2 linked regions of the Homo sapiens genome follow. The gene in region 2 interacts genetically with the main gene of each other region. Each region holds a gene or a part of one and is shown on either strand. Other genes may lie near its edges.

Evidence for each region. A genetic interaction does not mean that the proteins touch.
Region 1: changes in MPHOSPH6 (region 2) and EXOSC9 together harm fitness more than expected from each alone (negative genetic interaction), as found in Homo sapiens cells (one large-scale study listed by BioGRID).

Annotation. Positions count from the first base shown.
Region 1 is NC_000004.12:121,804,323-121,807,822, reverse strand, and holds part of EXOSC9 (exosome complex component RRP45), read right to left. Parts: intron 3,202-3,500; coding exon 3,064-3,201; intron 284-3,063; coding exon 201-283; intron 1-200. UniProt on the Homo sapiens protein: Non-catalytic component of the RNA exosome complex which has 3'->5' exoribonuclease activity and participates in a multitude of cellular RNA processing and degradation events.
Region 2 is NC_000016.10:82,149,367-82,153,948, forward strand, and holds part of MPHOSPH6 (M-phase phosphoprotein 6), read right to left. Parts: intron 2,149-4,582; coding exon 2,058-2,148; intron 38-2,057; coding exon 1-37. UniProt on the Homo sapiens protein: RNA-binding protein that associates with the RNA exosome complex. Involved in the 3'-processing of the 7S pre-RNA to the mature 5.8S rRNA and play a role in recruiting the RNA exosome complex to pre-rRNA; this function may include C1D.

The DNA of each region.
Region 1 (3,500 bases), on a different chromosome or scaffold from region 2:
TTCATCAAAGTATAAGAGTTTTGTTACTTCTACTGAGAAAGTTCTTTGCCAACTAATGCCCTTACAAAGAAAGAAAGGAAATACAAGGTGCTTTACTATTAAGGGAAGTGTTTGTTTAATATTAACATGACATACTTGAGTAGAGCAATAAAATTCCTAGCTGCATTTGTAATTTTGGCCCATAATAAGGCGAGGCTTACCCTTGCTGGAAAAAGGCAAAACTGACACAAATGGGCATGTGGTGGATACTTAATGGTACAGGATCACGCTCTTCAGGTGTATACTGTTTCAAAAGAAAATGTTTAATAATTATAGTCACTAAGTTATGAACATCCAAAAAAATCATCTTGCACATCAAATACTAAAAAATGAAGTTCCTTTATTCTTTTGAGTACCTAAATAACTTCTTTTAATTAATTACCAGTTTGATTTTGCCACTCACGTTCCTCAAACTGTACAACTTTTTCAAAAAGCTTTTTCAAAAATTTACTGACACATAATTTACATCCCATAAAATCCACTTTTTTTTTTGGAGATGAAGTTTCACTCTTGTTGCCCAGGCTGGAGTGCAATGGCAAGATGTCAGCTCCCGGCAACCTCCGCCTCCTGGGCTCATGCGATTCTCCTATGTCAGCCTCCCAAGTAGGTGGGATTACAGGCATGTGCCACCACGCCCGGCTAATTTTGTATTTTTAGTAGACGGGGTTTCTCCATGTTGGTCAGGCTGGTCTCGAACTCCCAACCTGAGGTGATCCACCTGCCTTGGCCTCCCAAAGTGCTGGAATTACAGGTGTGAGCCACCACGCCCAGCCAAAATCCACTCATTTTAAGTATATGATTCAATTTTTAGTAAATGTATAGTTATGGATACATTTACGGACCCATCACCACAATCTAGTTTTTTAACATTTCCATTACTCCCCAAAATTCCTTTGAATCTGTCTGTAGTCCGTAGGAGTCTGGTGTACTCCCACCCTAGCCCCAAGGAATCACTGATCTATCTTATTTCTGTCTCTATAAATCTGACTTTCTGAGCATTCTATATAAATGGAAAAAAAAAAAGTTGTAATGTTTTGTGCCTGGCTTCTTTCAACTTAGCATGTTTCATGCACCTTGCAGCATTTATCAGTAGTTCAGTTCTTTTCATTACTGAACAGCATTCCATTATTTGTATATATGACATTTTATCTATTCACCAGCTGGACATTTGGATTGTTTCCAGTTTCTGGCTAACAAATGATGCTATGAACACTTGCATTGAAGTCTCTGAACGTAGTAAGCTCTTATTCCTCCCGTAGATTCTTAGGCATGGAATTGCTAGAATTTTTTTTTTTTTTTCTAATTTTAAGCCATTGCAGTTTGTTTTAACATTATAAGGTCGGCTGGGGGCAGTGGCTCACGTCTGTAATCCCAGCACTTTGGAAGGCCGATGTGGACGAGGTTGGGAGTTCAAGACCAGCCTGACCAACATGGAGAAACCCTGTCTCTACTAAAAATACAAAATTAGCCAGGCGTGGTTGCACATGCCTGCAATCCCAGCTACTTGGGAGGCTGAGGCAGGAGAATCGCTTGAATCCGGGAGGCGGAGGCTGCAGTGAGCCGAGATCACGCCATTGTACTCTAGCCTAGGCAACAACAGTGAAACTTTGTCTCAAAAGAAAAAAAAAAAATTACAAGGTCAAACCTGCTGAAAGATGTACATATAAGAGAGTGTTTTCAGCTGGGCATGGTGGCTCATGCCTGTAATCCCAACAGTTTGGGAGGCCAAGGTGGGAGGATCACTTGAGCCCAGGAGTTCGAGACCAGCCTGGGCAATTTGGTGAAACCATATCTCTACAAAAAATACAAAAATTAGTCAAGTGGGTGGCACATACCTGTAGTCCCCACTACTCAGGAGACTGAGGTGGGAGGATTGCTTAAGTCCAGGAGGCAGAGGTTACAGTGAGCCGAGATCACGCCACTGCACCCCAGCCTGGACAACGGAGTGAGATCCTGTCTCAAAAAAAAAAAAAAGAAAAAAAAAAAAGAATATTTTCTTCTACTGTTATTTTTCTGAATATAGAATGCTGTCTACACTTAAAACTTAAGCTACCAAACTTTTCCAACATGGCTGTACCATTTTACATTCCCACTAGCAATAACACCACAGTATTCTTTAATTGATTTTTCAAGTGTAGTAATCGCTTTCTACTTTTTTTCACTTCCTTATATAAACTCCCTCCTCTAAAAGAATATTACCTCTACTGTTAATAAACCTTTGTCCCTATTTCTCACTTTTTAATGGTTCTGCTTCAGTCTACTGCCCAAAATCAAAATTATGAATCATTGCTTAGAAAATCTGGGCATCTGATGTGTCCTTTTGCAACTTCAGGATTCAAACTACAACTACAGTGCACTTTCACTATTCTAGCATGTAATTTATATAAATCAAAACTGACATACTCAGAACAAAAGATAAAGACAACGTAGGTCAATGGTTTTCAAAATGTGCTCCCTGGACCAGCAACATCAGTATTACCTAAGAACTCAAAGTTAGAAGTACAAAATCTTAAGTCCTAGCCCTGTTTTACTTTGGGAGTAGTCTGGCTATACGTTTTAACAAGCCCTCCAGGTATTTCTGATGGACTTTCGTCATCTCTTTGCCTAATGAACAAAAGTCCTGGAGACAAATATGAACCTGCTGATTCCTCAGTGCTTTTCAGCTATTGCATGCCTCTTGCAGGGTAAGCATCTCACTGTGCTGAGATTCATGTATTTTTCACACATATGGCCCCTAAACATAAGTCAACCACTTCATCTAATGTTCAATCCAAAATAGTCATCTAATTCTATTCTGGAAAACCAGGCTAGGGTATGTTCTTACTGACAAATGTTTCAACAGAGGAACGGTTAAGAGATTTCCAGGGCAATTTTGACCATATGCAGTTTCAGTCTTACAAACAAATTTTTAGAAACGACCCAATTGCCATCTACAACATAACTTCACTAAAAACAAGTTGCCTGCACATTTAAGACCCTCCTCATTCATTCATATCAAGGATCCTGGTTCACATAGGAGCTTACCAGTGTTACTTCATCTCCTTGGACAGAGACATCAGGTCTTCGGAAATGACATAAGGCCACGATTGCAGCAATGCTGGCAGCATCAATAATATTTCCATCATGATTTAATAAATGTAGGTCTACACGTATTTGCCAAACCTGATAGTGAATTTAAAATAAAAATAAATCCTAACTGATTACAACCAGTGGCTATTTATCAGGAAAAGTAACATTGTGTACAAATTATTTTTTCTTGCTGTTAAAACACGCAGTTACTCCTTGTACTTTGTCAACAAAAAATATATTTTAGAAAATTTAAGCCAAACATCTGAAATACTATGTGGGTCGTTTAACAACAGAACACATACTTTAAATAAACAGAACCACTCTAACATTTAATACTACGATTTTCCTAACCTCAAATCTAATTACATTTTTATCATGTCTGTTAAAAACCA
Region 2 (4,582 bases):
CTGCTTTGTGCTTAGCATTCATCTGAAGCATCAATTTCTGAAAAATACACCAGTGCTGACCTTCAGGCTAGAAAACGCTTGTGAAAGGAACTGATGTCAAACTTACCTGAAGGCAGAGAAACTGAAGTCAAATAATCTAGAGAACTAGTCAAAATTGATAAGGGACTCTCTGTAATACTTGATACCACAATGGTGTAAGAGAAGTAAGCTCTGAGTCAAAAAAATAGTAAGGCAAAGCCCCACTGAATTATACTTAGGGTGAATTTAAAGTGTATTTAAGATCATAAATCTTAGTATTAGTTACTCATATTTAAAGCAGGCATACTGCTGACACATTCCGGTGAGTGGGGGAAGAAATAATAAACTTTCAGATTTTCCCTGAACTTCCCCCACCCATCTTTAAGCCATATGGAAGAAACACTAGTCGTCAGTAATAATTTTAAATGCATCTCTTGGTGGTGGTGGTGGTGAGTGGAGGAGGTGGGAGAAGTGGAAGGCTGGCCCTGTTTAATGGAGGGAATCTGCACCTCAGCCTTACCCTCCTAAACTTTAGAGTGGATAATGCATCCCATGTAACATCCATGCACCACAGGGTCTCTCCTCCAACTCTTTCACATAAACCTTTTTGTGATAATTATCCTCTGACCTTTTTTTTTTTAAATGTGTAATCTCTTCTTTTTAGCAAGAGGAGAAGGAATAAAAGATGAGAAATCAGTCTTAACTAGTTTTTCTAAGGCTTAAAAGAGTGATAATAGTTTAAAACCTTTTCCTAGGGGGAGTGTATTCAGTGTTTCAGAATCCAGTAATTAGGGCCATTTTCTAACACCCGTCCCTGCCCCCCATCAATTTCTGCGGGCAGTGGCACCTCTCCTTTCCCATTGCAGCAGACATACTTTGGAATGCTCGCCTATCCAAACCCTACTCTTTGAATACCACATCTTCATAATCCCTGCCTTTTTCTTCCCTCTTCACCCCACTGCCCAGCCCCTCTCCTTCTCAATCTGAAGCTTAATTAAAGAAAGTCAAAGCGAGACCAGCATATATTAAAAACAAACACTTCTAACATAACACCTTAATTATCACACATGCCTCCTCCCACTCCGCCAAAAAAGAAAAGGAAAACTAACCTAGAATCTTTCAATAAACTCTGGCAATTGGCTTAGTTAACTGTGGCTCCTAGAGAAGTGGTTCTTAACTGGGGATGATTTTCCCCACCAGGGAACCTGTGAAAATGTCTGGAAACATTTTTGGTTGTCACAGCTGGGTAGGAGGGTGGGGTGTGTGTGTGCTACTGATATTTAGTTGGTAGAGAACAGAGGACAGGGATGTGGTTCGTCATTCTCTTAGGAAAGCCACCACCACAAAGAATTATCTGGCCCCAAATGTTAACACTGCCAAGGGCAAGAAACACTGGCTTCAAGTAATATTTACCAAACTAAAGATTTATATCTCATGTGTCCATTTGGTTCATCAAGTACTTGATAGGATGGCTTTTAACATATGAGCCAGAGTTCTAATGAATATTTGTTAAATAAAGGTCTGCTTCTCTATCCTGGAGCAGGAAAATTCAAATGAATAGCTCAGTTATAAGGCAAATATTCATTTTTCAAACAAACTGTCGAAAGGATTCATTTAAAAATCTACTTACAAGCTTGGATTACAACAGTCCATTAAAAAGTCAAATGACATAATTCTAAAGTAACATTTTTCCGTTAGAAAAAATACATGTATAGGTGCCAGAAAATAACTTTTCATAATAGCATGATATGAATAAAATCTTGACGTTCCTGTAAAAGACACAACTTGAAATTTTAATATTTATGGTGGCTCTGTCAAGGGCTGTATACTGCTATATGAAATTATCTACTCACCTCTACCATAAAACTAGACTGCAATGCCTCCAATTTCTTTAAATAGCTATGGCGATATTTCAAGACTTGTTATTTTCTATATAATGAGTAGAAATGGTACCTGGTGGAGAAACACCTAAGCCCAATTATTAGCAGAAAAAAATTCAATTGGAAAAATTTTTAATTTGAAGCAATTATATTTAATACCTCAACCTCAGGATTAAATCCTCTGAATGACATTCTTCCATAGAGAAGATCTTCACATAGTAAGAAACTCTGCTCTTCTATTATGAAACTCCTAAATGGGAAAATAAAAATAGCATTTCTCCATATATAAAGCACAGCAAACAAAAGCCAACACTTTGAATAAAAAAAATAATCAACCTATGGTTCTCAGTAGAATGAAGTAAAAATACAGTAAGATTTCTAACTTAGGGTTAAAAATAAAATCTGATTAATTTGGTCAGCAAAGGCATTAGGAGACAAGAGCAGCAAGCTAGAGGCACAGCCTCTCTTAAACACCACATTTAATTTGCATAAATATCTACATAATATAAAGATCTAAAGTATTGACAATAAACTTGAATTTGCCAAAGTTGAAGCAAAGTTTCTTTTGTGTTTACATCCCCTCACCATATTTTTTTCCAATTCTTTTTCAGAAAGGAAATAATATGTATGTAAAAATACACATACAGTATACAGTGACACACTACTCCAAATCATTTTAATAAAGTTTCTGGCATATTTTGTCTTTCGTTCTCAGGGATTTCAAAAATTCCATTCTCTAATTATCAAAGCAGCACATTTTAAGGAACGTAATTTGGAAAGCAGAATAAAGTATGAGTTTATAAACTGCCTGTAAGCTCCTTACCAAGAGGATAAAAAGGACTGTTAGTATATTTGAATATTTCCTTCCAGTCTTTTTTGTACTTGCATTTACGTTGATTCTTGAACACAGGTCTGAGCTGTGTGGTGCACTTATACACAGATTTTTTTCAAAAAATTTCAATAGTTTTTGGGGAACAGGTGGTTTTTTGGTTACATGGATAAGTTCTTTAGTGGTGACTTCTGAGATTTTGGCCCCCACCAAATTCTTATTACAAATCCAGGAGAAGTAGTGGGAAATCAGAGGCTTGAGCAGCTTTAACAGTGTTATCAGTCAGAGCTCTTAGCTATAAACACCAAAGGCTGACCCTGGATGACTTCAGCAGAGAAGGAATTTACTGTAAGAACACTGTAGGCTCTTCATTTCCAAGGGGGACTGGTTCCAGGACCCCTTGTAGATATCAAAATCTGTGACACAAAGAGCCAGCTGTACTGGGCATCTCAGAATCACCGGGAAGGCTGAAGGGGCAGAATTGGAAGACGGGCAGAAATAACGGTCGCTAGGTGGTTGCACCAGAACCAAAATCATGCTAGAGAATGACCCTAGGAAAACCACTGTTGCTGCTGACGGGGCTGAGCACGACACCACTGATGGCATTGGGGCAGGTTGCGTTCCCTGGACCAGGATGTTTCTGTCTGCAGCAGAATTTCTCTGCTGAGTCACCACCACATGACCGTAAATCCAAGGTGACATATCTATCTCCAGCCTGGCCATAAACCCTAAAGCATGGCAGGAAAGCAAACATGTGGCTTTTAAGGCTTGTTTGCCGGAGTAGGCTCTGATTCTCATAAAGATTCCCTTATGCAACAAACACTTATTAAACCAAACTGTGTGTATTAAATCAAACTGCGGAAACAGCCACCAGTAAAAGAGCCTCAGCTGGGCACAGTGGCGGATGCCTGTAGTCCCAGTTACTCAGGTGGCTGAGGCAGGAGAACTGCTCGCATCCCAGAAGTGGAAGTTGCAATGAGTCAAGATTGTGCCACTGCACTCCAGCCTGGGTGACAGTGTCAAACACTCACCTCCAAAAAAAAAGAAAAAAAAGGAGCCTCTGCTCTCCTGGAGGTTACAGTCTATAGAAAGAGGGGCCAAATAATGAATGAAACATGAAACATTTATATCACACAATGGATGAAAATAAAGCAGGTTATTCCATCCCTAGCTGTAGGGGAGTAATTGGTATGGAACTAGCTTTCCTGCACCATAATTATATAAAACAGGACAAAATATAAAATGACCATTTTCAGATAATGAACAAATCCAAGCATATGACTGTGATGCCTGAGAGAAGAAAATCAAATGAAGTAGACCCCATGAATGCGGAGCTTTCTGCCTGGAGGCAATTTCCAGATTGTGGAGCAGGGAGTGGGGGACTCACACAAAACCCTGTCTTGCTGAGCTTAAGAGACAAACTGTTTCATTGGGGCTTTAGTTGAAAAAAATAAAGGCACAAACTGAAGTTTGGGGTTATGGTGGTGGCTGGAATATCTGGGTGAGGATACCACTGAAAGGGAGCTACACTATGGAATTCAGGACCTGCATACTGGGTTCCCTTGAATCTTTGGCTGACCATGAAGCTGCACATGTGCAGGATGAGTCTTTAGACTTAGGGAAAAAGTAACTGCTGGAGAGATGATTTCTGGGAGAACACCTGCTGCATTAGCTTCCTGTGGCTGCTGTAACAAATTTAAGCTGACAAAATTGGTGGCTTAGAGCAACAGAATTTATGCTCCTACAGTTCTGTACAAAATCCAGATGTTAGTAGGCCTGGGATCCCTCCAGAAGCTTCCACGGTTACAAGGCCTTCTGTGTGTCAAATCTTCCTCACCTCTCCTCCTTATAAGGA